Linked DNA regions of Homo sapiens: region 2 is linked to region 1. The links come from fine-mapping of genetic effects on gene expression. Tissue or cell type: whole blood. Region 1 holds a variant in brackets; the other region holds the start of a gene. All regions are shown on one strand. Distances are from middle to middle.

What was found. PIP is the estimated chance that this variant, and not a neighbour inherited with it, causes the effect.
Region 2: HSPA6 starts here. The variant in region 1 is fine-mapped to the expression of HSPA6 in whole blood (TOPMed, PIP above 0.99).

The regions. Positions count from the first base shown.
Region 1 is chr1:161,555,242-161,558,001 of GRCh38, reverse strand. No RefSeq gene overlaps it. Among named protein-coding and RNA genes, the nearest start is that of FCGR3A, 6.8 kb to the right of the region's middle. The variant A/G (reference allele first, on the strand shown) is at 1,128.
Region 2 is chr1:161,523,475-161,526,028 of GRCh38, reverse strand. It overlaps HSPA6 (heat shock protein family A (Hsp70) member 6), which reads right to left and starts at 1,489. Exons shown (of 1, transcript NM_002155.5): 1 at 1-1,489. The coding sequence starts at 1,370. TRG-GCC2-1 (tRNA-Gly (anticodon GCC) 2-1) reads left to right here and starts at 2,112; the gene lies at 2,112-2,182. It also overlaps a transcript of FCGR2A not described here.

The DNA.
Region 1 (2,760 bases):
TTGTTGGCCAAATGCCCTACGAAATATAAAATGGAGTCTTTTTCTAAGATGGAGTTAGTTATGTCAAGGGTCCTTTATACAGTCTTCATCCTTTTTCCTGGCATACAACTCCTAAAATCCTTAGAATCTCCAAAGTGATGTCTTTTGGTGTGCTAATGAGGTAACTGATGGCTGGCAGCTCTTAGGTAGCTTCATAACAGGGGCTGGGCACAAGAAAGATCATGGCAAGGTCAGAGGATTGGGGCTTTCAGCTCCACCCTCCAAACTCCCTCTGGGAAGTGGAGAGGGGCTGAAGGTTGAATTGATCACCAATAGCCAATGACTTAATTAATCATTCCTAAGTAATAAAGCTCCCATAAAAACCCAAAAGGACAGGGTTTGGAGATCCTCCAGAGAGCCGAACACAGAGAGGTTCTTGGAGGGTAGTGCACCAGAGGGCATGGAAGCTCCAAGCCCCTTCCCACAGGTCTTGCCCTATGTACTCTTTACTTGTGTCCTTTGTAATATTCTTTATCACAAACTGATAAATGTAAATGTTTCCCTGAGTACTGAGAGCCACTCTAGCAAATTAATTGAACCCAAGATGCAGGTGGTGGGAACCCCCATTTATAACTGGTTGGTCAAAAGCACAGGTAAAACAACCTGGGGCTTCATCCTGGAGTATCAGAAGTGTCTTGTGAGACTGAGCCCTTCACTTGTGTCACCTGATGCTATTTCCAGTTAGATAGTGTTGGAATTCAATTGAATTTGAGCAGAAGTCCCAATCCCCAGACCTGTAGTTGTCAGTGACCTCTTAGGAACTGGGCTGCACAGCAGGAAGTGAGGGGCAGGTGGGGAGCAAAGCTTTATCTGTATTTACAGTAGATCCCCATGGCTCACATCACCGCCTGAGCTCCTCCTCCTATCAGATCAGCTGTGGCATTAAATTATCACAGGAGCATGAACCCTATTGTGAAGTACGCATGCAAGGGATCTAGGTTGCATTCTCCTTATGAGAATCTAATGCCTGATGACCTGGCATTGTCTCCCATCACCCTAGATGGGACTGTCTAGTTGCAAGAAAACAAGCTCGGGGCTCCCCCTGATTCTACATTATGGTAAGTTGTATAATTACTTCATTAAATATT[A/G]CACTGTAATAATAATAGAAATGAAGTGCACAATAAATGTAATGCACTTGAATCATCCTGAAACCATCCCCCACCCCCCTACCCCTGTCCGAGGAAAAATTGTCTTCCATGAAGCCAATCCCTGGTGCCAAAAATTTTGGAGACCACTGGATTAGAAGACACCCAGTTGGTGCCCACTGCTGAATTGCTTGCTTGCTTGCTTGCTTGCTTGCCAGTGGAGAGAAATCCCCACATATCTGTTGTCAGAAATGTGTTGTGAGAGCATAGTGGGAGGAACTGAGTTTGTTTTTTCTACAGTTACAGCAATAGGTAACTGGAATTCAACTGCTGGACTATACCAAAGACTGCCAGGCCAGCCTACCTTTCTCACAGCCTTCTTGACTACCTGTCTTGGATGAGCTCACTGAAAGCCCACATACCTTCATTCTAGCATTTCCTCAGTCTGGTTGAGCTGCTTTGGAGGTAATACAGGTTGTAGGACTTCCCTCCACTCCTGCTCAGGACCGTTTTCAGCAGGCTAATCAGACAGCAGTTGGCACTGAGTACAACTGGAGAAATGTTATCAGCACTGAAGACTGCTCCAGCTACAAATGCACAGCGACCCACCTCAGCTGGACCTTTGGCATTGCTTGGCAATCCTTACAACTGTTTGGAATTCTTGGTAATTCTTGTACATACAAACAGTCGGCTCCTTCTCCCATGCACCACAATGGCCATTCTCAACTCTGGTGTTCTCAAACCCCCACCACAACTGTTACCCACTCTTTCTCGACAAGTGTCTTTGACTCCTCCTTAACCAAGAAAATCAGGACCAGCAGATGTGGATGGTCACTCAACATCTGAAAATGGATTTGCATATGTACCCCCTCAGCTCCTGCCTTCAGCTCAGAGCGAGAGGTAATCCGTATCCAGTTCACAGCCAACTCCCTGTCCATGTCCCATTCCCATCTCCTCAGGACCCACACTTGCTTCTCTAGGTGTTCCGTCCCTGTTAGGCATCCAACTTCTCCCACCCTGCTGGCTTCTTCCCAAAGACCTATAACCAAGCTCGTATCTTTCACTTAAAAGAAAACAAAAACTCCCATTCTCTTGTAACTACCTTTGCAGAATTGTGTCTGAAACAGTGAGAGAGATCTAACTTAATTGACTCCATCTTGCTTCTAACCTCCAAGCTGTCTTTCCTCATTCTTGGGCATAGGCTGAACTAACTTTGGGAGAAACTTAGTTTATAGTTTGTGGTTTAAAGCAAAGATGATAACAGCCCTTTCCCAGGGCAGACCTCCTTTTTTTCTGAAGACTAGATTGTCTTTGTAGGACTAACATTAGCCACAAGATTGGAAATTATGGTTTAGGAATCATGCAGGTGGAGGCTACAAGATTCTGACCCTTCCTAAGCACTGATCCTAAGATCGGTGCTTGAGATATTTTGCAGACCCTGCACTTGATGGATCACCTGGCAACACCCAGATCAATAAACTGGCTCATCTGATCTTGTGGTGCCCACCCAGGAACTGACTCAGAACAAGAAGACAGCTTCAACTTCCTGTGATTTCATCCCTGACCAATCAACACTCCTGGCTCACTGGCTTCCCCTCCACCAACCAAGTTGTCCTTAAAAACTCTGCTCCCCGAA
Region 2 (2,554 bases), 32 kb after region 1:
AGGTTGTTGTCCTTGGTCATGGCCCTCTCACCCTCATACACCTGGATGAAGACCCCAGGCTGGTTGTCCGAGTAGGTGGTGAAAGTCTGGGTCTGCTTGGTGGGGATAGTGGCGTTCCTCTGGATCAGCGTGGTCATCACCCCACCTGCTGTCTCCAGCCCCAGAGACAGGGGAGCCACATCCAGCAGCAGGAGATCCTGCACTTTCTCACATTTGTCCCCCATCAACACGGCCGCCTGCACAGCAGCCCCATAGGCCACAGCCTCATCAGGGTTGATGCTCTTGTTCAGCTCCTTGCCGTTGAAGAAGTCCTGCAGCAACTTCTGCACCTTGGGGATGCGTGTGGAGCCCCCCACCAGGACGACGTCATGAATCTGGGCCTTGTCCAGCTTGGCATCCCGCAGGGCCTTCTCCACCGGCTCCAGGGTGCTGCGGAAGAGGTCTGAGCACAGTTCCTCAAAGCGGGCACGAGTGATGGACGTGTAGAAGTCCACGCCCTCGAACAGGGAGTCTATCTCCAGGGTGGCCTGGGTGCTGGAGGACAGGGTGCGCTTGGCGCGCTCACAGGCTGTGCGCAGCCTGCGCAGGGCACGCTTGTTCCCGCTCAGGTCCTTCCCATGCTTCCGCCGGAATTCTTCCATGAAGTGGTTCACGAGCCGGTTGTCGAAGTCCTCTCCTCCCAGGTGGGTATCTCCAGCAGTGGCTTTCACCTCAAAGACACCAGCGTCAATGGAGAGAACCGACACATCGAAGGTGCCCCCACCCAGGTCAAAAATGAGCACGTTGCGCTCTCCCGCGCCCCGCCGGTCCAGCCCATAGGCGATGGCAGCTGCCGTGGGCTCATTGATGATCCGCAACACGTTGAGCCCCGCGATGGCCCCCGCGTCCTTGGTGGCCTGGCGCTGCGAGTCATTGAAATAGGCGGGCACGGTGATCACTGCGTGCTTCACGGGCTGGCCCAGGTACGCCTCGGCCGTCTCCTTCATCTTGCTCAGCACCATGGACGAGATCTCCTCGGGGTAGAACGTCTTGTCCTCCCCGCGGTAGCATACGCGCACCTTGGGCTTGCCGCCCTCGCTCACCACCCGGAAGGGCCAGTGCTTCATGTCCGACTGCACCGTGGTGTCCGCGAACTTGCGCCCGATCAGCCGCTTGGCATCGAACACGGTGTTGTGGGGGTTCAGGGCCGCCTGGCTCTTGGCCGCGTCCCCGACCAGCCGCTCGGTGTCGGTGAAGGCCACGTAGCTGGGCGTGGTGCGGTTGCCCTGGTCGTTGGCCAGGATCTCCACGCGGCCCTGCTGAAACACGCCCACGCACGAGTAGGTGGTGCCCAGGTCGATGCCCACCGCGAGCTCCCGTGGGGCCTGCATGGCTGAAGCTTCTTGTCGGATGCTGGAGGCCACGGAGGCTGCTGCCGCTCCGCCGTCGAGGGGCGCTCAGCAGTGAGGCTCTCCCTGCGGTTTCTCTGCAGCCAGCCCGGCTCGGATCTGCTCAGCTCCGCTTCCACCGGCTTTTTATCCTTTTGCGCCTCACCCGACCCCCGCCGCCGCGAACTTTCGCGAACCTTTCCGCACCTTCCCGCACCTTCCCGCCCAGTTGAGAGCCTCTCGCCCGCCCGGGCTGACTCAGCCGGGTGGCGCGGCGCGGCGCTGACCCCGGGAGAAGGTTCGGGCAGATCGGGGCATGAGCCGCGAGGCTGGGCGGCTACGCCAGGCCAGCCCGCCTCTGACTCAGGCTGCTGAAAGAAATGCGGGGAAGGTTCTAGCTCCTCCGGGCTGGCTCTGAGGACGCGCGGTTGTGGCAGAGGCTGCAAAAGCAGCAACTTTAGAGGCAAGGTCTCCCCGGGGCTGTGGGAGGTCGGATCCCTGAGGCACACAGGGGCCTGCGGGCTGCCTTGGAGGGCCGCTGAGAGCCCAGCGGCTCAGGAAGGCCGAAGATATGTTACCATGCGAATACAGATATATAAGATATATACACGTATATCTTAAAACAGTTTTATCTTGAACAAAATATTTTCCAAACCGCGATTTAAGACGGTGCCTGGTTCCTTAGTGAATGGCCAGAGATAGTGAGCTTTAAGAGACAATACTGCAGGTCTTTAGCTGACAGTAGCATTGGTGGTTCAGTGGTAGAATTCTCGCCTGCCACGCGGGAGGCCCGGGTTCGATTCCCGGCCAATGCACTTTCATTTTTTTCCGATCCATTTCAATTCTTTTTCTCATCTAGGATTAATCACTCTTGAATAAATTAAACCAGGTGGCTGAAGACTTTACATTCCTCCAGTTTTGTTCTCTCTCCTTTACCAGTCACTTTCCACAAAGGAGATGTGACATTGCACTGTGGCCCTGGGACTCGGGAGAGACCTCGCCACTCAGCCCAAGAGAGAACGCAACACCTGGGAAAGGAGGACGCAGAGTACGGTCGGGATGTCCCTCATGTTCTCCCCACTGTTTGTATCCCCGAGGAGCCTCGTCTCCAGAGGCCCGGTGGAGAGGCACAGTGTGCGTTTTTCTTTATGGCCTAAGTGGGTTCCCAGCTGGAGACCAGGACTCAG